3 linked regions of the Homo sapiens genome follow. The protein of the gene in region 2 purifies or fractionates together with the protein of the main gene of each other region. This does not show direct contact. Each region holds a gene or a part of one and is shown on either strand. Other genes may lie near its edges.

Region 1 (7,065 bases), on a different chromosome or scaffold from region 2:
TATTTTGGACATTTCATTTTTATACAATTAAAGTTTTCAGAACTATGAAAATTAAGAAAACAGGTTTCTAAGTACACTCTTTGTTAAACAAAATAATTTCAGAAATCTAACTTTAGGCTTTTGGGATACCCACATATTTCTTTCAGGGGAGAAAAATTAATAAGAGCCCGGTCACAAATCAAAAGAAAAACATGTGGCCTAACATTATGGTAGAAACCATGGCTACATTAAAGCCACAGCTGTGCATAAATCACAATCACCATCAATAGTATCAAGGAACACAAAAGTTAGCCACAGGCACACTGAATAAAAAGGGTAACCTGTAACCTCTGTCCAGGCTTACATTGCTACTGAAATGCCACTGAACTTAAAAAGGAAAATAATTTATGTAATTTTTACACAATTATCAAGAACTCTGGTTTATAAAACTCACATAAAACAAGTGGCATTTATACCAACAGTAAAAGCATAGATGGCTTAACACATGTTCCATTCACAGGGCCAGAGAAATTTTTAAATAGGTAAGAACATATCATTCGCCCAGTAATTTTTACTATTTTTGTGTGAATTTGCAAAATTTTGAAAAATCAAATACTTTCAGCAACAGTTTGATTTTAACTTCAATTTTAGCTAAATGAAAACACATCAATTATGCTCCACTACCTGATAAAAGTCTGAATGGTCAAAAACCAAAAAAAATTCAGTAGTTACCTAATTATTATTAAGGAACATCTGGCTTTCTAATACAATGAATTGTATAATTATAGTTATAATAATTATCATTTATTGACTACTAGTGTCATACTGTTCTACATTAACTCATTTAATCCTAACAAAACTCTGAGATCACCACTATTATTCTTTTATAAATGAAGAAACTTAGCTGAAGGTCACACAGCTACTAAGAGGTGAAGCTGGTACTCAAACCAGAGGCCATATTCTTACACACCATCTATAACAGAAGTTCGATAACTTGTTTTAACTATCTAAATGTCAGCCTCATTACTCTAATTTACATAAAAGCAGATGAGAAAAAAAACAGCTCACTGAAATGGCAAATAATCAAAAACTTGTTTGCAGACTGATAACGCATTATGTGTTGAAGAGAAGCTGCATATTCCTCTAGTAATAAACTGCTTCGTCTAATATTATTTTTAGATATTCCTTCTGTAGCACTTTATTTTACAATTTTCCTAAGCATTTATACATAATTATGACAAATTTGAAAATCAGAAAAGTAATTATGGTTTTAAAAGTTAATCTACAAGGAAGTAATGATTTCATCTTAAAGCCAGCAATCGTTAACCGCATTTACTGAAAAGCAATGAAAATTTCAAACCACCTAAATATGCAACAGTATATTCCTACAATGGGATTCTATGCAGCCATGAAGAAGTCCAAAAGACTGAGACTGAGAGGGATAAACCTGTTCACAACGTATTAGCTGGAAAAATGATCAATACAAAACAAGATGATCACATATCACACAATACATGGGGGGGGAAATGAAATGACATGAGAATATCAATAACGTGAGTTTTTTCTTTTCTCCTTTTTCATGTCTTCTAAATTATAATAAAACGCTCATTTTCTAAAGGAAAGACTAGCTTTTAAAAGCTACAAAAACACACCTCGTTAAACTAAGCAAACAACTACTTATTGCAGCCAGAGATTTGTCAGGAAAATTATATTCTCTTAGCTCGGGTCTCTTCTCATCCAAAACACTACTAGCAATATCACAAAAATTTAAAAAGCAATGTGAGTGGATCTATTTCCACTTAAAAAACAACACATTCTGCAAAAGTGATAATTCTAGCAATAATACATCATTGCCCTAATAATCCTGTATTACTTTGGGCACTTACAACTGGTTTTCGGCCCATTTTCAAATTCACGTACTGCTCTTGCTCTCAACTTTTAAAATACAATTAAAAACACTTGAACTCGGAACACTTACGTTTCAAGATCTCTTTCCTACTTCTGTACTTTAAAGAAATGAGTATCTTATACAAAAGCAAATATCGAGAGACAACCGCTGAACATGACACACTATTTTCCTAAGTAAACAACCATTTCTTTAACAATCTCTTCGCCTTCAAATTTTGTGAAGCCAAGCGCAAATTATGTAAAGTCTACCAGCAATGACAAAAATAGCGTGTCAACTGGGGCAGGGGTAGCAAGAAAATAATAGACCTACACACAAAGTCCACTTTCACTTGCTGTAATTAATCGCAACCATTTCAAAGTCCCCTTCCATCTTTATCTCGAGTATTTTAACAAACTAGCAAGTGCATCAGTTTGAGTTCGTTTTAATTGAAACATTTAACTATCAGAACGGCTGACAGATACTACAGGACACTAGGCCCCGAATAATCTTATTAATAGATCCAGACCCCCAAGCGGTCTGAAGCTCGCAATAATAAAGAGGATTTAAGATTAACCAAGAAACGGCCGTTAGAGACCCTTTCCGGTCATAGGCACCGGCCGGCAAAATCCGCGGAGGCGAGAGGGGGAGGGGATACGCGGCGGCGGAGGAGGAGCTGAGGAAGGAACTAGGCCCGTCCCTGGCGGACAACCGGGCCTACGAGTAGCTAAACGGCAGGGGGGACCCAAACAGGGGAGAAGGGTGAACATCTTAACTCGGTTCTGAAACAGGGAGTCTTGGGTTACCTCGGAAAAGGCGAAGTTCCTCGAGGGAAAAGGAAGGGAGCGGCTGGGGGGGCGGTTGGGGGGGGCCCGGAAAATGGATCCCAGGCCCAGGCGGGGCCCTAGCGGGGCCTGAGCCGGGGAACGACTGCGTCTCCGAAGAAAGGTGCCAAAGAAGGCTAGGTGAGGGCCTAACGGTCCGTTGGGAGCAGAAGAATCTGGGAGGCGTTTACCTGGAAAGCTCCTGTTGAATTTCCCGGAATTTACTGACCACGAAAGACCTAAAAATCTGCTCGATGTTGGTCGCCATGGCGTCCGCTCCGTTCTCTCAACTCCTCCTCGCTAGTCCTCCAGGCTCCCAGCATGCCTCGGGAGGAGGCGCACGGGCCAATTCGGTCTCTCGCCTTCCTGATTGGCTCCAAAGGGAATGCCCGGTCCGGCCCGCTCCACCGAGGGACCAATCAGTGAGCACGGCCCTGCTCTCCTCTGCTGTTTCTGAGCGGCTGGGGTAGAGGTGCTGACGTTTGCGCCGCGCACGACTATGTCCGCCATGTTAGTGTCTGACGCAGGCGCCATTACAGGAGCCGTCTCTCTTGAGGCGACCGTGTCCGCATAAGTTGTCAGTCCCCAGCAGTGTTTGGGAGCCTTAACAGGCTTGCTAAGTGCCTGAGATTAAAGGCGAAGAGGAAGAAGAGCAAGAAGGGCAACCCGGTGTTTAACACACGGCTTTCAGGCGCTCTCAGGTGGCGCCAAGTTCAGTTTCGACAGGGATATGCATCCGGGAGAGAATTTTTCAGCCCCCGCCCCCACTGGCATGTGAGAGGAGGAACTCGCTGTTGCCCTGTGTCTTCCCCAGTGCGTTCTATAACCAGCCTCATTTTTTTTTTTAGCAATAGGCCGGATGTCCTAAGCGACCGGCATTCAAAGCCCGGTGCATTTTAGTCTCATCAGGAGTCAGGCGTGTCACGAGATTTTTCCGCGGTAGCTGCTCAGCTCTGACTCGTGAGCGGCGCACAATTGGCTAAGAATGGGTTTAGCATTTTGGCGCTCCCCCCCGGCGCTCCTGGAAACACTGCGTGGCACCCCGTACCACTGTCACATTATAAACGTGCTAAGGCTTGGGTGTCTCGGCTGGGGAGCAGTCAGGCAGCGCCCAGGGCGGGAGGGAATCAGACTAGATTCTCGCCGCGGAGACCCAGGGCCGCGCGGACCAATGGGGCAGGGAAGCCGTCGTAGGGCGGGGCAGTGAGGGGCGGTGCCGCGCTGGTCCCGCGCCGGTCCCGGTGGGCCGACTTCCGGCGAGCGGGCAAGCGGGAACCAGGTGGCCACCCGGTGTCGGTGCGTAAACCCCCTCCGCTTTTACACGGAGCGCGCTTAGGCTTTGGTTTGGGGATTTAAGATCGCGAACTGAGTGAAACCATAGAAACTGATTTGTAGAAATTTTCCTGTTGTTTGTAAATGCGGTGGGTGGGGGTTGGCCATGTGCTTTTCACTTGCTACTGTTAGCTGGTTTCTATTTGCTCTTTTACTTTTCCTGTTTTCTAAGATGTCAAGGCCTTTTTGTGTCTTTATACATTTTTAGGACATAACCCTAAATTGGTGTACTTTCTCTTTATGCACCCGTTGTCTCTGGCAGATTACTTGGTTAATTTTGTAGTTGGTTTCTACTTTATTCTCCATATCCTCTGATACGGCTTTATTTGCCTGTCTTATTCTGCTTATGTTACCCATTCTGAGGAATGAGGCCCAAGGTTAGTGAAGTCCCCCAAGGTCTTCCTGCTAGTATGGGGCAGCGTCTCTACCCAGGCCAAGGCGCTGTGTGAGACTCAGGAGCCCAGGCGTCCTCACCACTGGGTAGTAAGGCTATTTTCAGTGATCCACTAGAGTAAACAGAATTTTCCCACACTACTGCTATATTCAAACTAAAGATGTAACATTTGCTCTAGATTTAAAGATCTGTTTATTTCTGGCCGGATGTGATGTAATCCCAGCACTTGGGAGGCCAAGGTGGGTTGACCATTGGAGGTCAGGAGTTCGAGACCAGCCTGGCCAACGTAGTGAAACCCCGTCGCTACTAAAAATACAAAAATTCGCCTGGCGTGGCGGCGCACGCCCGTAATCCCAGCTACTTGGGAGGCTGTGAGGCAAGAGAATCGCTTGAACCCGGGAGGCGGAGGTTGTAGTGAGCTGAGATCACACCACTGCCCTCCAGCCTGGGCGACAGAGAGAGACTGTCTAAACAAATAAATAAATAAATAAAATAAAAAATCTGTTTATTTCAGATACACATGGCAAGTAAAATGTGTTTTCCCGTTACACTAAAGTAGCTGTTCCTTCCGAGACTGTAATTTAACAGGGTTTTTTTTTTTCCTTTCTCAAATTTTCAATGATCATCGTTTCACTTGTTGAGAGAATCTGAAGCAAAATTGCTTCTGTTAGGCTCCACCCCCTCTTACCTGTGTGACCTCCAGCAAGTTATTTACCTATCTGGGCCTCCTTGTCTTATCTGCAAATTGGTGATAGTAATAGTATCTCCCTCATAGGATTCTTTCATGACAAGCATTTTAAATAGTACCCTGCCCAAGGTTAAGTGCTCAAAAAAATGTTAGTTTTGTATATTGTCAGCTTACATTTTTCTTAAAATATGTAATCCCAACATCATCAAAATAAGTTTTCAATTTTCTTTTTCCTGTTACCAGTTTGTCTTGTGGTAAGTAAATGTAACAAGTTAACATTTACTACTGCTGAGTGCCAGATTGTACTTATTTATAAATGTCATTTCAGTTAATCTCCTAGGTTACACTGCTGTTGTATCCATCCTTCTAAGTCTCAGGTGCCAGAACTAAAGTGAAATGAGTTGGAATTTGATTTTTGCCTTCTCTACCAATATTCTAGCATATTGCGCTATTTGAATTAGGAGTCAGCAAACTATGGCCCACATACCAAATCCTTCTGCTGCCTGCTTTTGTACAGCTCACCAAATATGAATGATTGAGAAAAAGAACAGGAAATAAATGAGGTTTTTGTGACATGTGAAAATTTTATGAAATTCAAATTATAGTATCCGTACATAAAGTTTTATTGAAAGCGAGTCACGTTTATTTGTTACAAACCTTTGATGGTTTCCTGCTACTTAAAGTACTGATAGGCAACAGTGATCTCTGACCCACTGCCTGTTTATGGGTCCATTAAATTTTTCTGGACATTGGCACATTGATTCATCTTCGTATTATCTTTGGTTGCTTTCCTGCTAAGGTGGCCGAGTCGAGTAGTTTTGACAGAACTATGTGGCCCTTTTTGTGTAAAGTTTGCTTACCCCAGTTTTCAGTATATCCTTTAATTTATGATAACCTAATTATCTGTAAGATTTCAAGGTTTAAAAATTGATATTTTATAATACATTTTGAGTCTAAAACAAGATTCATTTCATAACTAAGGCATGATGATTATTAAATCTTTTTGAAGTGAAGCCCAGAGAAGGGAGATTATCACATAAGGAGCTGAGAGTCATCGTTTGACTCCTTAACCTAGCTCTCTAGGCCAGCCTGCCTTCTTTTTGAAATACCTCCCTTATGCTTATGACGACAGTCATATTTCTCAAATTATGAATCCCAGTTTTTCAAAAATGAATCATTGGATGAAAATGTCATTTGTATGAGTACAAATGATTACTTAAATTATATTTACAAATCTGGATTTCTTTTTTTTTTTTGAGATGGTCTTGCTCTGTTTCCCAGGCTAGAGTGTAGTGACGTGATCCTGGCTCACTGCGATCTCCTCCTACCAGGTTCAAGCAATTCTCCTGCCTTGGCCTCCTGAGTACCTGGGATTACAGGCACCCGCCACCATGCCTGGCTAATTTTTGTATTTTAGTAGAGATGAGGTTTTGCCATGTTGGCCAAGGCTGGTCTCAAACTCCTGACCTCAAGTGATCCACCTGCCTCGGCCTCCCAAAATGCTGGGGGTACAGGCATGAGCCACTGTGCCCGTCCCTGGGTTTCTAAAATGTGCATCCTAAGATATAAACTGTGGTTTTCTTTCTGCAGGTTTCATTTTCCTTTGGAATTTCTGCTTTACAGACAGAACAATGGCAGCCCGAGTACTTATAATTGGCAGTGGAGGAAGGGAACATACGCTGGCCTGGAAACTTGCACAGTCTCATCATGTCAAACAAGTGTTGGTTGCCCCAGGAAACGCAGGCACTGCCTGCTCTGAAAAGATTTCAAATACCGGTAATCATGTTTTAAAGTGGGGAGTAATAGTTATTATTTGTTATTAATGGTATGCTGTCAACCATATCTGTACTTTATGTTAATAAAGATAGGCTGGGCACAGTGGCTAATGCCTGTAATCCCAGCACTTTGGGAGGCCGAGATATGCGGATCATGAGGTCAGGAGATGGAGACCATCCTGGCTAAC
Region 2 (7,698 bases):
AGACCCTGTCCTCTGAAAACAACAAAAAAATAGTGACAGTAATTTTTGTCAATATTGATACCAAAAACAAAAAACAAGCCAGAAACAAAGAAAGAAAGAAAAAAGGCAGAGGAGCAGGAGGGGAAAAAAAAAAAAAAAAAAAAAAAAGAAAAACCAGAGGGAGAAATAAAAGCTCCTCCTTATGCGGTGGTGCACGCCTTTAATCCCAGCAGTTTGGGAGGCCAAGGTGGGCGGATCACCTGAGGTCAGGAGTTTGAGACCAGCCTGGCCAACATGGTAAAACCCCATCTCCACTAAAAATACAAAAATTAGGCTGGACGCGGTGGCTCAAGCCTGCAATCCCAACACTTTGGGAGGCTGAGGCAGGCAGATCACTTGAGGTCAGGAGTTTGAGACCAGCCTGGCCAACATGGTGAAACCTAGTCTCTACTAAAAATACAAAAAAATTAGCCGGGAGTGGTGGCGGGTGCCTGTAATCCCAGGTACTTGGGAGGCTGAGGCAGGAGAATCACTTGAGCCTGGAAGGCGGAGGTTGCGTTAGGCCAAGATCGCGCCACTGCACTCCAGCCTGGGCGACAGAGCGAGACTTCCCTTCCCCTCTCCACCAAAAAAAAAAAAATACAAAAATTAGCCGGGTGTGGTGGTACATGCCTGTAGTCCCAGCTACTTGGGAGGCTGAGGGAGGAGAATTGTTTGAACCTGGGAGGCGGAGGTTGCAATGAGCGGAGATCACACCACTGCACTCCAGCCTGGGCGACGGAGCAAGACCCTCTCTCAAAAAAAAAAAAGAAAAAAAGAATATCACTTAAGTCTGGGTATAGTGGTTCACACCTGTAATCCCAGCACTTAGGGAGGCAGAGGCAGGTGGATCACTTGAGGCCAAGAGTTTCAGACCAGCCTGGCCAACATGGTGAAAACCCGTGTCTACTAAAAATACAAATGGTGTGCGTCTGTAGTCCCAGCTACTTGGGAGGCTGAGGTGGGAAAATCACTTGAACCTGGGAAGTGGAGGTTACAGTGAGCTGAGATCACACCATTGCACTCCAGCCTCGGCAACAGAGCAAGATGCCCATCTCAAAAATGATAGGATTATAAAATCACTGTTCTACAACCAGTGTGGTAATAGTTGATTTAGGCAAGAATCATCAATGGATGCCAACCCATTGAGATATTGTCAGGGAAGAGATATTCACACAGTTTCAAAGTATCACCCCACACAAGTAACTTTGTTGTTTTGTTTTGAAGTGAAATTCACATTAAATGAAAGAAACCACTTTAAAGAGAACAATTCAGTGGCTTTTAGTCTATTAGCAATGTTGTGCCACCACCACCTCTATCTAGCACCAAAACATCTTCATCACACCAAAATAAAACTTGGTACCCATTAAGCAGTTGCTCCCTCCTTCTCCCACCCCCCAACTCCTGGCAACCACCAATCTGCTTTCTGTAGATTTGCCTATTCTGGATATCTCATATAAATGGAATCATACAATATGTGACATTTTGTGTCTGGCTGCTTTTATTTAGCATAATGTTTTTGATGTTCATCCACATTGTAGCATGTGTCAGTACTAAATTCTTTTTATGGCCAAAAAAATATTCCAGTGTATGTATATACCGCAATTTGTTTATCCATTCATTTATGGATGACCATTTAGGTTTTTTCCACCTTTTGGCTGTGATAGCGCTGCTATGAACACTCATGTACAAAGATTTGTTTGAGTATCTGTTTTCAGTCCTTGTGCATATATACCTAGGAGTGGAATTGCTGTTAATTCTATAATTAGCTTTCTGAGAAGCCAACAGACTGTTTCCATAATAACTGCACCATTTTACATTCCCACCAGAAATGTAGGAGGGTTTCAATGTTTCCAACATATGAGGGTTCCAAAATCCCCACCAACACTTTTTTTCCATTAACATTTTTTTTTTGAGATGGGGTCTCACTCTGTTGCCCAGGCTGGAGTGCAGTGGTGCGATCATAGTTCACTGCAGCCGCCAACTCCTGGACTCAGATGATCCTCCAGCCTCAGCCTCCAAAATGCTGAGATTACACTTGTGAGACATCACGTTTGGCCTTATTTTCCATTACAAAAATTTTTAGCCGGGCGCAGTGGCTCATGCCTGTAATCCCAGCACTTTGGGAAGCCAAGGAAGGTGGATCACCTGAGGTTGGGAGTTCGATACCATCCTGACCAACATGGAGAAACCCCAGATCTACTAAAAATACAAAATTAGCCAGGCGTGGTAGCACATGCCTGTAATCCCAGCTACTCGGAGGGTTGAGGCAGGAGAATCACTTGAACCTGGGAGGCAGAGGTTGCGAAGAGCTGAGATCGTGCCATTGCACTCCAGCCTGGGCAACAAGAGCGAAATTCCATCTCAATAAATAAATAAATAAATAAATAAATAAATAAATAAATTTTATAGTCATCCTAGTAGGTGTGAAGTAGTAGCTCATTATAGTTTTGCTTTGTATTTTCCTAACAACTAATGATGTTAATTCTCTTGTCACATGCTAGTTTGGTCATTTGCATGTCTTTGGAGAAATGTCCATTCAAATCCTTTGCTCATTTTTCATACAGACTTCTTAAATACAGAGGGAAAAGGTACCTGTATCTTGGAGAAATAATTAACTGTAACATCACCAGTAATGGAACAAACTGACATCATATTTTGATGCACTAAGATGAATACAACATCATCTATAGTATAGCCAACAAAATTGTTTAACTTGAATCTAATCATAGGGAAACAGACAAATCCAAAACAGGGAACATTCTGCAAAATGGTGGAACTGGATTCTTCAAAAAAGTCAATGTTATAAACAACAAAACAAAACAAAACAAAAAAAGGCTGGGTGCCGAGGCTCAGGCCTGTAATCCTAGCACTTTGGGAGGTTGAGGTGGGTGGATGACCCGAGGTCAGGAGTTCGAGACCAGCCTGGCCAATAGGGTGAAACCCTGTCTCTACTAAAAAAAAAAAAAAAAAAAAAAAAACAAAAACAAAAATTAACTAGATGTGGTGGTGTATGCCTGTAATCCCAGCTACTCGGGAGACTGAGGCAGGAGAATGGCTTGGACCCGGGAGGCTGAGGTTGCAGTGAGCTGAGATTGCGCCACTGCACTCCAGCCTGGGTGATAGAGTGAGACTCCATTTCAAAATAAATAAATAAATAGAAAGAAAACCAAAACACAAAACCAAGAATGATTCTAGACTAAAGGTGTTTAAAAAGACATGACAATTAAATGCAACGGATGATCCTTAATGGTAGACTAATTGGGAAAAAAAGAAAATCAGCGACAAGGGATATTACTGGGATATTTTGCAAAATTGAATATATATGGCCTGTATGTTACAGATGATTACATTGTATTAGTATGAAAGTTTCTTGGAGTGATCATGGAATTCTGATTATGTGGGAGATTATCTTTATTCTTAGTAGATATGTACTGAAATATTTAGGGATAAAGGGTAACAGTGTCTACAAAAACTCAAGTGATTCAGCAAAATAAACCATACACACAGACACATAGATAGCAAATGTGGCAGAATGTTAAAAATTGGTGAATATGGGTTAATTTGGCTGTTAATTGTATTTTCCTTGTAACTTTTCTATAGGGTTTGATATTTTTTTGAATATAAAAAGTTAAGGACTCTTCAAAATCCAAGCAGAGTTTCCCGTTCTGATTTATCATCCTTAGTGTAAGCCACCTTGTCAAAGATACAGTTGTGTGACCAATGAGGGAGTTAATAGTCAGAATGCGTATCTTTCAAAAACTATTGTAATTATTTACATAAATAAGAGAACATTGCAGTTATCTTTTTGTGTCACTATCAACTTGATTCACATCTTTTGTAGGCAGCCTGATAAGGTGGTTTGTCGACGGCCAGGCCTGAATTTCGATCCTGGCTGGTTAAACTTTTTAACCTCGTTGGGACTCAGTTTCCTCATTGTAGGATGCAGAAAATAACTACTTGGTGTGATTGTTGTTTTGAATTGTTATACACCTGGTGTTTACGGAAGCGAGTTTCAATTCATGTGCAAAACCTTTGTCCTACCTTGAATGCTATCTGTATCTTTTCCTTCATTAAACTCATGCAATCCTGGAGGGCACTTAGAGGTGGGAGAGAAAATGACTTCTCCAAGGTCACACCGCTAATCGCGGACCCAGGTTTCCCAGCTTTTGGTCGTGTGCCCTTTCCACGCCTGCCGGAGAGGAGGAAGCGGCGCTCATGGGGTTGCAAGGATGTAGAGGAGCAAAGGGAGAGAAGAGGCCGCGGGAAGAGAGGTGGTGCGAGACCCGCGGAGGCGCCGGCCAAGGACGGGCGCATGGAGCAGCGGGCGGCGCGACCGGCCGGGGTGCGGAGGGGAGAGGCCGCGGCGGGGAGGGAGGGTCCCGCGGGTCCGGTGCCCGGGAGAGGCGGGCGGCCTGGGCCAGCCGCAGGATCGCAGGAGGCGGAGGCCCGGGCCGCGGGCTGGGGTGGGGGAGGCCGAGGGCCAGCGCGGCCATGGGCGGCGGCCACTTCTGCACAGGTGGGTGGGGCGGGGGCGCGGGGCGCTGGGCGCGCGGCGCTGGGGTCCCGACCCCCGGGGCCGGCGGGTGGGGGCGGGGCGGGGGCGGGGCCGGACGGGGGCGGGTCTTGCTGGGTCCCTGCTGGAGCGGCGGCGGCGGCGGCGGCGCAGGCGCGGTTCTCGTCTCCTCCCGGCCGGCGGAGCGAGTGGAGGCTGCAGCCCAGCTCGTCTCGGCGCCCGCGTCGCCGTCGCGAAGCCCCCCGCCCCGCTTCCGCCGCGTCGGAATGAGCTCCCGGAAAGGTGAGTGGCCCGCGGCGCGCCCTCTCCCCGCCACGCGGCCAGCCCGGGCGGGCGGCCCGACCGTTAATGTGTGTCTTCTCTTCCCCAGTGCTGGCCATTCAGGCCCGAAAGCGGAGGCCGAAAAGAGAGAAACATCCGAAAAAGTGAGTCCACGCTGCGCCTGTCCCCGTTCCCCACCCCCGCCCCGTCGGGGGCGCCCGCGGCCGCGCAGGGGAAAGTTGTCCGGGTCCCCGGGCCGGCGGGCGGGCTGGTCCCCCGGGACGCTGGCGCTCGGCTCCTGCCCCCGGCGGGCGGCCCGGGGGGAGGGGCGGCGGCGGGGGAGGGGCGCGCGGGCCGCGGCCGGTTCCCTAGCATCACGGAGCCTCGACCCCGCGACCTCCCGCCCCGGGTCGCCACCGGCCGGCGGGCGGGAGGCCGGCGGAAAGGCGCCGGGCAGGGCGTGCGCACCCGTCCCTTGCCCGCGAGCTGGCCCGGGGGTCGCGGCCCTTTCCGGAAGGGGCCCCGGCGTCTGCCGCTGGGCTCCGGCCCGCCCGCTGCGGGAGTGCAGCGGCTGCGTTGCTCCCACCTGAGCCGCGGGCCGAGGAGGCGGAGGGGCCGAGTGTGCGGGAGGGCGTGTGTCTCGCCTCCCCTTCCTCCCCGGCCCCCGCCTGTCGGCCTTTCTGCTGAGAACCTAAGCTGGTTGTCAAGTGGTTTGCCTCGGGCGTGTTCCTGGCGCGAGTTCAGCCCCGAGACCTGTGCGTTTCGGCTCTCGGGTTTGGATTCGAAACTTTCCGCTCGGGTTGAGCGTGACTTGGGTGCGCTGCGGGCGCCGGGGTCGCGGGCTGCGCAGGGCGGTGGGCGTGTGCGCGGGAGCCGGTCGGAGTGGAAAACGCGCCCGTGGCGGCCACCTCCAGCCTGGCCGCTCACCCGAGCAGGGGGGCCGCTGCCCAAGAACCCTTTCCTGGAGAGCTGCTCCGAGACCGCACAGCGCCGCCGCGTCTTCTCCTTTTCCACTCCTCTCTCCTAATTTTTTTGATTTACCAGCGTTCGACATCGTTATCTCTTCCTCTAGATTAATTGCTTCGCTCTTTTGAGCAAGAATACTCTGTGTGGCATCTTTGGTACTGTGGGGAACGAGAATCCAGCATTATCTTTAATAAAATCCAGAAACATTTTTGGTTGTTTCCTTTGAGGGGTACGTCGCAGCACGCTCACTTTTTTCCCCTTCTCGTTGGCCTTGGTCCTTCAGTTTCACAAAATGTGGATAGTGACTTAAAAATACCTTAAAAAAAAAAAAAAAAGAAAAAACCATTAGAGTAAGGGGAAAGCACTTCCTAAAGAGTTGAAGAACTAATTGGTCGGTAAAAATTGGATATTGAATTCATAAGATGTTAAAATGGACTGGATTTTTGGTAGTTTTGGTTGCTTTTAAAAAAATTAGTGCTAGCTTTCAAGTGAATTACAACCTTAAATTTGAGATTTCCTTTGGTGAACCATGGAAGTTTACCCAGTGGTAAGGAGAACTGTAATGTTTAGGATTCTGAATAAGTACTGTGTTTTAATCACAGCTCTTAATTCAAAGCATTGATTTAATTCCACGTAGTCTGTTATACTCAGAAACATAAAAACAAGTGGAAAAAGTATGACCCCAGTGTCGGAGATGGCTATGTGTGCATGTATATACAAATAGACACGTATATGTGCATGTTACCTTTACGTACATGTGGAAAAACAGTTCTAATTAAGTCAATATGTGTCTTGTATTTGCATATATTAGAGTATGATTTTCCTAATGGTCGAGGGCCTTTTTGGTGGGCCGCAGTTTGGATTTATGTGGTATGTTGATGAAGACTTAGTGAATAGCCACAGTACTCAGCTTTTCCTCTCACAGATTAATCTGCCAGTTTCTCCCACTGTGTATTGTGTATATGTGATAGAATTTGAGGGGGAAAATAACACACCAGCTAATGATGAAACGAACTGGCTCTAGTCTGTAAGGTAACGGGACCAGCCCAATTATATAACTGATTGAGGCATTGCCATTTTTCACTTAACTCTTTGAATCAAGTCATAATTTTATTTAATAATTTTTTTGAGGCAGAGTTTCGCTCTTGTCGCTCAGGCTGGAGTGCAATGGCCCAATCTTGGCTCACTGCAACCTCCGCCTCCCAGGTTCAAGGGATTCTCCTGCCTCAGCCTCCTGAGTAGCTGGGATTACAGGCACCCGCCACCAAGCCTAGCTATTTTTTTTGTATTTTTTAGTAGAGACGGGGTTTCACCATGTTGGCCGGGCTGGTCTACAACTCCTGACTTCAGGTGATTCACCGGCCTCGGCCTCCCACACAGCTGGGATTACAGGTGTGAGCCACCGTGCCCGACCTGAATCAAGATATTATTTAAAAGAACTGTTTGATGTTATTTATTTATTCATGTCTTCAATAGGTATTTACATGTCTGTCTTCGGAGATGGTGTTAGAGGTTGTTTTTTTTTTTTTTTTGAGACCGAGTCTTGCTCTGTTGCCCAGGCTGGAGGGCAGTGGCGCGATCTCGGCTCACTGCAAGCTCCGCCTCCCGAATTCACGCCATTCTCCTGCCTCAGCCTCCTGAGTAGCTGGGACTACAGGCGCCCGCCACCACGCCCGGCTAATATTTTGTATTTTTAGTAGAGGTGGGGTTTCACCGTGTTAGCCAGGATGGTGTCGATCTCCTGACCTCGTGATTCGCCCGCCTCGGCCTCCTAAAGTGCTGGGATTACAGGCGTGAGCCACCAAGCCCGGCCGGTGATAGAGTTTTGAACAAGACAAAGCTCCTTGCAAAGCTAACCTTGGGAGGTTTGGGGAAAACCACAAAGAGGGTGACAAGATAATTTCAGATAGGGCTAAGGGATAGGAAGAAAATGAAGA
Region 3 (7,411 bases), on a different chromosome or scaffold from region 2:
GCCCGGCCTCCTTTTTTTTGTTGAGATGCAGTCTTGCTCTGTCGCCCGGGCTGGAGTACAGTGGTGCGATCTTGGCTCACTGCCACCTCCACCTCCTGGGTTCAAGCAATTCTCCTGCTTCAGCCTCCCGAGTAGCTAGAATTACAGGTGTGTGCCACCATTTCCGGCTAATTTTTATATTTTTGGTAGAGACAGGGTTTTGCCATGTTGGCCAGGCTAGTCTCAAACTCCTGGCCTCAGGTGATCTGCCTGCCTTGGCCTCCCAAAGTGCTGGGATTATAGGCATGAGCCACCGTGCCCGGCCCATGCTTATTATTCCTATTCCAAGGCTGGTAAGAAGGCAAGGTTCGGTTTGGGTGTTGGGGGGGTGCGGACTCAGAGCTCCTGGTTCCTAGTTTAGGGTACCCTCCTGATGAAAGATGATACCACATAAGTATGATTAAAAGCATGGAGGCCGGGTGCAGCAGCTCACGCCTGTAATCCCAGCACTTTGGGAGGCTGAAGCAGGTGGATCACCTGAGGTCAGGAGTTCGAGACCAGCCTGGCCAACAAGACGACAGCCCGTCTCTACTAAAAATACAAAAAATTAGCCAGGCGTGGTGGTGGGCACCTGTAATCCCAGCTACTCAGGAGGCCGAGGCAGAAGAATCGCTTGAACCCGGGAGGCAGAGGTTGCAGTGAGCTGAGATCATGCCACTGCACTCCAGTCTGGGCAATAAGAGCGAAACTCCATCTCTAAATAAATAAATAAATAAATAAGCATGGAGCCAGGCTGGGTGCGGTGGCTAACGCCTGTAATTCCAGCACTTTGGGTGGTCGAGACAAGAAGATCGCTTGGGCCCAAGAATTCAAGACCCAGCCTGGGCAACACAGCAAGACTCTATATCTACAAAAAAATATATATGTACAAAAAACTAGCCGGGCATGGTGGCGCACATCTGTGGTCCCAGCTATTTTGGAGGCTGAGATGGGAGGATCACTTGAGCCTGGGAGGTTGGGGCTGCAGTGAGCTGTGATCCAGCTACTGCATTCCATCCTGGGCAACAGAGCAAGACCCTGTCCCAAAAACAAACAAACAAACAAACAGCTTGGAGCCCTGCCGCCAGAGTTCAAATTGGACTCTTCCTCTTTCTGCACTATAGCTAAGGGGCATTATAGCTAAGGGGCTTCACTTCTATGAGCCTCAGTTTTCTCACCAGGAAAATGAGACAATAAAAGTTTCTACCTCATGGGGTTGTTGAGAGGATTCAGTAAATTAATATTTAAACACAACAGCGCCTGACATAGGGTAAGGCATTCAGTAAAAGGTGGCTGTAATTTGCATTAAATTTGCCTCATCTCAGTGGGGGCATTTAGGGAAGGTTATAAATGTGTCCGGAGGCCAGGCCCAGTGGCTCACGCCTGTAATCCCACCACTTTGGGAGGCTGAGGCAGGTGGATCACCTGAGGTTGGGAGTTCGAGACCAGCCTGGCCAACATGACAAACCCTGTCTCTACTAAAATTACAAAAATTAGCTGGGCGTGGTGGTGGGCGCCAGTTCACTCCAGCCTGGATGAAAGAGGGAAACTCCATTAAAAAAAAAAAGTGTCTGGAAAGCTTGGAGTTTCAATGTGAGTCCTGGCAAGTCGCTTCTCCCTCTTTTCTTCAGCCAGGCAATCACTAAACCTCAGCCTCAGGGCCCCAGCCTAGGTCTGGCACTCTCCTTTCCCCTCCCACCTGGGTCCCTGGATGTCCCAGTTTCCTCAAGGCTCCTAAGTACCACTTCCACAGGCAGCCTCCTTTTCTGCACAGAGCCTCTCCAGGGCTCCCCCGTGCCCTCAGGAAAGTCTCAGTCCCTTTGCACGACCCGCTCTGTCCTGCGTGGGCTGGCTCTGCCGCTTTCACAGCCCCATGTTTGCCACTTCCCCCGGCAAGTTAAGGACATATTTGCAGTTCCTTGAATAGAACATGTCCTCATTTCACTCCAGGCCCCTGCGCAAGCTGTATACTCTCATCACACAGCATTTGCACGACTTGCTCAACAGCACTCAGGGTTCCCCTTCTCCAAGAAGCTCCCCCTGACTCCCCAGCCTGGGTCAGACACCCCTCTGGGCTTTGTCATGACAGCCCTGACCACTCTGGGTTGTCACTGTCTGGAAAGGTGGAGGGATCTGTCTCTCTCACTAGACTGGGCATTTGCTCTTTTTTTTTTTTTTTTTTTTTTTTGAGACAGAGTCTTGCTCTGTCTTCCAGGCTGGAGTGCAGTGGCGCAATTTTGGCTCACTGCAACCTCTGCCTCCAGGGTTCAAGCGATTCTCCCGCCTCAGCCTCCCGAGTAGCTGGGACTACAGTTGCATGCCACCACACCTGGCTAATTTTTGTATTTTTAATAGAGATGCGGTTTCACCATATTGGTCAGGCAGGTCTCCAACTCCTGACCTCAGGTGATCCACCCGCCTCGGCCTCCCAAAGTGCTGGGATTACATGCATGAGCCAAAGCACCCGGACTGGACTGGGCACTTGTGAGGACAGCTTTCTTCATTGCTGGAGGCACACCACCATGGAAGAGATCTAGGTGGGGGACCTAAGTAGTCAGCCTGTTTGATCTTGAGGACACGGGAACCCCCCCCCCACCCCAAGAGATCTGTGAAGTGTCTAGGGCAGAGCCTGGGTGGTGGGTGGGGCATGGAGACCCTACCGGTCCTTGTGTAGTTTCAGAAGCCTCTTCACATCTTCTCTGCCCTTGGGGACCGGGCCGGCCTTATCAAAGGCCTCCTTCAGGAGCTGGCTCTTCTCCAGGCCGAAGACATGACGGGGAGCAGGCCCTGTGGCAGCGGGTGGAGGAGGCAGTGGGAGCGGTGGGGGAACAGGGGTCTGCTGACTCCAGGGAGGGGATGGTAAAGCTGAAAAGTCCAGGGGACTTGGGGGTAGAGGAGGAGATGGAATGCTGCTGGCTTGGGGTACAGGGGTTTTTGGAGGAGAAATTGGTGGTTTTAGGGGAGGAGAGCATGGAGAAGTCATTTTGGGGTCTACAGGAGGTGTTGAGAGGTTCAGAAAGCGGGGAGGGAAGGATCCTCCAACGGAGAACGGTCTCAGGGATGGAGATTTTAAAGGTTTAAGAGCTGAGTTCCAGAATCTGGGGACTGAGCAGTGGGTGTGAAAGGACCAGGGCTAATATTTGAAACCACGGGAGCAGGAATTGCGAGGCTGACTCAAGTCATAAGGCACCTGACGGTTAACAGGGTGGGGTCCTTAAATCCGGAACCGGATCTGTGGTACCGGTTGGGTTACCTCGGGAGTCTTAGGTGGAGAGTTAGTAGGAGTTAACTCATTCTTTGGGGCTGGATGTGGAAACTCATGAGTGAGTTTGGGATATGAAGGCTCAGATCTAGAGTGAGGTGCCTTAAGGATGCGACTTAGGGACCCAGGGCTAAAGATTCGGAGAACTTAGGTTCAGTACCCCCTCACATCCCAGGCCCGAGTTCGGAACCTTTGAGCTGACCTTTGAGTCAGAGGTCAAGAGGTCAAAAAGGACACCTGGCAGGGAAAATGGCCTAGTTGTGGAGAAGGTCCTGGAACCAGAGCAACAAAAAACGTCTGTGGGTTGGAGAAGACTCAGAGATCAGAGGCCGGTGGGCGCCGCGATAACCACTGGAAAAAGGAAAGGAGTCAGGAAGTAAAGTGCACCTCCCACTCCCGGAAAATGGCGGCCCCCGCACACTGCCTTTCCCATATCACGTGGTATTACACGCAACAGTTCCCGCCCATTTTGCGATCACGTGACAGAAAACGCAGCTCTGGCGGGGGTAAGAGGCGGGACTCCAAAAAGGATTGCCTCCGGAAGACACCGCAGCGCGAGACGCGTACAGACTCGTGACCTTCACTGATTGGTCCGTAGACCCGGGCGCCACGGAAGGAGGTGGGCTTTCAGGGAGTGGGGCGGGGTTTTTCTACCTAGGCGGGAACCCAAATATCGTTTTGATTGGCAACAGCTGAGCCCAGAAACGAGACTTGCTCTGATTGGTCAAGCTACTGCGTTTCCGCGCGGCGATTGGCTGGCAGAAAGGCAGAGGCGGGGCCAGGAGAGAAAGCTTTGTGGTTTGGTCTCAGGGAAGTAGCAGGCGCCGGTTGAGAGAACTACGGCCCTGTCGGAAGGTAACCTCCGGTGCAAACGACCATCGGCGGCAGGCGAGCGGTACGCTTGGCGTCCGGGCCTTCCTGGGCCCGTCTGAGGAAACTTGCTGCTCGAGGCCAGGCTGCCTAGGACCTGTCCCTTTTTTCTATACTGGCTCCCACATCCGGGTTTTTTCTCCGGGACGGCCCTTCGGATGCTTGGGCCAATGGGAATCGCCATTTAGGGTGCTCCGCCCACCGGGTCGCGTAGAGCATCCTGGAAGTCGTAGTAAATCTCTCGAGAGTTCTCTCCGCACGCGGGCTGGAGAAGCGGGTCCTACGCACGCTTTGTTGTCGCGCTTTGCCTCCGTCCTTGCCCCTACTCCCGCCTTACCTGACTTCCTTTTCGGAGGAAGATCCTTGAGCAGCCGACGTTGGGACAAAGGATTTGGAGAAACCCAGGGCTAAAGTCACGTTTTTCCTCCTTTAAGACTTACCTCAACACTTCACTCCATGGCAGTTCCCGAGACCCGCCCTAACCACACTATTTATATCAACAACCTCAATGAGAAGATCAAGAAGGATGGTGAGTTCTCGGGATAGTCCGGAGTCCAGACTGTCCCGCACGGGCTGGCCCCTCTTCCGTCCCCTGCACCCGCCTCTCTTTCTAAGTGTTTGTCCAGCCAAACTTCGAGTTAACTCCTTGGCCTTTACACAAACTACTTCCTGTCTTCAACACTCCATTAGTTCATCTTACACTCTGCCCTTTAACGTGGTCACTGCTGCTCATCTTACAAGGTTTGAGGTCACAGGACCCTTCCTCCAGGAAGCCTTGCCTTGTCCCTTCACGTGGCTGCCGCTGACTTGCCGTACGCTGAGACCATCTCCCATCAAGCCCTGATTCCTCTGAGCTGTCGTGGGGCTCTCTCTCCTCCCAGTGGCCTTTGAACTCCGTGAGGGCAAGGACTGGGGCTTTCTTGGTCACCGGCTTTTTCAGTGATCAGCCCACAATGAACATGTACCATAATGGTGGCTAACGCTCTGTATCATGGGCTGGTCTGTGTGCTTTCATATAAATCTTGATAACATTTAATTCTCACAACAATCTTGTAGGAAGAAGGCTATTGTTATTCCCATTCGTCAACTAAGAAACTGGGGCCGGGCGCGGTGGCTCACCCCTGTAATCAATCCCAGCACTTTGGGAGGCCGAGGCGGGCGGATCACCTGAGGTCGGGAGTTCGAGACCAGCCTGACCGACATGGAGAAACCCTTTCTCTACTGAAAATACAAAATTAGCCGGGCATGGTGGCGCATGCCTATAATCCCAGCTACTCGGGAGGCTGAGGCAGGAGAATTGCTTGAACCCAGGAGACGGAGGTTGCAGTGAGCCGAGATTGCGCCATTGAACTACAGCCTGGGCAACAAGAGCGAAACTCCGTCTCAAAAAAAAAAGAAAGAAAAGAAAAAGAAACTGAGACAGGGGTGATGTGACTTGCCCAGGGTCACATAGCAAGTAAAGTGGTTGAGGCCACCCGTATAGAATTCTGCTTAGGAACCCAATTTTTGGCCGGGCGTGGTGGTTCAGGCCTGTAAGCCCAACACTTTGGGAGGCTGAGGCAGGAGGATCACTGAAACACAGGAGTTCAAGATCAGCCTAGGCGACAAAGCCAGACCTTTTCTCTACAAAAAAAAAAAAAAAAAAAAAAAAGGCTGGGCGTGGGTGGGGTGCGTCTGTGGTCCCAGCTACTTGGGAGGCTGAAGTGGGAGGATCGCTTGAGCTAGAGAGGTTGAGGCTGCAGTGAGCTATGATTGCACCACTGCACTGCTGCCTGGGCTGAGCAAGAACCTATCTGAAAAAAGGAAAAAAAAAAAGAACTCAATTATTGAAATCGGAAAGACTCTCTCACATTCTCAAGTAAATTATCACCTTTATTGAACCTCATTTTCCAGATCTAAAAACTGAGCAAAATCATAATACCTTTTTTGCATGGATGTTGGGGGAGATTAAATTAGCTAAACCTTGCAGTATTTCTTTTTTATGGTAACTGGCAGCTAGTAAAGGGCTGGATAAATGTTAGCTCTTATCACTTCAAGAAAATTATCGGGAGAACCGAAGGAGCTTGTTGGGATTCAGTTTGAGGTTACCAGTGAAGTTGCTGTTGAAGAAAGCAAAACCAGCAGCCGGGCACTGGCTCACGCCTGTAATCTCAGCACTTTGGGAGGCTGAGGTGGGCAGATCATTTGAGGTCAGGAGTTCAAGACCAGTCTGGCCAAGATGGTGAAACCCCGTCTCTACTGAAAATACAAAAATCAGCTGGATGTGGCGGTGCGCACCTACAGTCCCAGCTACTCGGGAGGCTGAGCAGGAGAATCACTTGAACCCTGGGAAGCAGAGGTCGCAGTGAGCTGAGACCGCACCACTGTACTCCAGCCTGGGTGATAGAGACTGTCTCAAAAAAAAAAAATCAGGAGTGTAAATTTTGCATATGTTTTTTTTTTTTTTTTTTTTTTTTTTTTTTGAGGCAGAGTTTCACTCTGTCACCCAGGCTGGAGTGCAGTGGCACGATCTTGGCTCACTACAACCTCTGCCTCCCAGGTTCAAGCGATTCTCCTGCCTCAGCCTCCCGAGTAGCTGGAATTACAGGCACCCGCCACCACGCCTGGCTAATTTTTATATTTTTAGTAGAGACGGGGTTTCACCATGTTGGCCAGGCTTTTCTCGAACTCCTGACCTTAGGTGATCCGCCCACCTCGGCCTCCCAAAGTGCTGGGATTACAGGTGTGAGCCACCACACCCGGCCTGCATATGTTTTTAGAGTGTGGTGCCCAACCATTATCGGGCAGTGCTGGGGACACATTGGTGACATAGAACCCTGGTTTTTTGTTTTTAAATCTTATTTTATTTATTTATTTATTTTTGAGACGGAGTCTTCCTCTGTCGCCCAGGCTGGAGTGCAGTGGCACCATCTCTGCTCACTGCAAGCTCTGCCTTGCCTCCTGGGTTCACGCCATTCTCCTGCCTCAGCCTCCCGAGTAGCTGGGACTACAGGCGCCCACCAGCACACCCGGCTAATTTTTTGTATATTTAGTAGAGAAGGGGTTTAACCATGTTAGCCAGGATGGTGTTGATTTCCTGACCTCGTGATCTGCCCACCTTGGCCTCCAAAAGTGCTGGGATTACAGGCGTCAGCCCCAGCGCCCGGCGTTTTTTTTTTTTTTTTGAGATGAGACGGAGTGTCGCTCTGTTGCCCAGGCTGGAATGCAGTGGTGCGATCTCAGCTCACTGCAACCTCCGCCTCCCGAATTCAAGTGATTCTC

The links. Proteins that work in one complex are often made in the same cells at the same time.
Region 1: the proteins of SRPK2 (region 2) and SON purify together in Homo sapiens (affinity purification with mass spectrometry; 4 studies listed by BioGRID and IntAct, with this or other methods). This does not show direct contact.
Region 3: the proteins of SRPK2 (region 2) and SNRPA purify together in Homo sapiens (affinity purification with mass spectrometry; 4 studies listed by BioGRID and IntAct, with this or other methods). This does not show direct contact.

The regions. Positions count from the first base shown.
Region 1 is NC_000021.9:33,538,984-33,546,048, reverse strand, and holds the start of SON (protein SON), read right to left. Parts: upstream 3,012-7,065; 5' UTR 2,957-3,011; coding exon 2,880-2,956; intron 1-2,879. Other genes in the region: GART (trifunctional purine biosynthetic protein adenosine-3), read left to right, coding at 6,734-6,878. UniProt on the Homo sapiens protein: RNA-binding protein that acts as a mRNA splicing cofactor by promoting efficient splicing of transcripts that possess weak splice sites.
Region 2 is NC_000007.14:105,385,909-105,393,606, reverse strand, and holds the start of SRPK2 (SRSF protein kinase 2), read left to right. Parts: upstream 1-4,685; 5' UTR 4,686-4,800; coding exon 4,801-4,816; intron 4,817-4,904; coding exon 4,905-4,959; intron 4,960-7,698. UniProt on the Homo sapiens protein: Serine/arginine-rich protein-specific kinase which specifically phosphorylates its substrates at serine residues located in regions rich in arginine/serine dipeptides, known as RS domains and is involved in the phosphorylation of SR splicing factors and the regulation of splicing.
Region 3 is NC_000019.10:40,746,803-40,754,213, forward strand, and holds the start of SNRPA (U1 small nuclear ribonucleoprotein A), read left to right. Parts: upstream 1-4,400; 5' UTR 4,401-4,606; coding exon 4,607-4,679; intron 4,680-7,411. Other genes in the region: ACTMAP (actin maturation protease), read right to left, coding at 2,679-3,001. UniProt on the Homo sapiens protein: Component of the spliceosomal U1 snRNP, which is essential for recognition of the pre-mRNA 5' splice-site and the subsequent assembly of the spliceosome. U1 snRNP is the first snRNP to interact with pre-mRNA.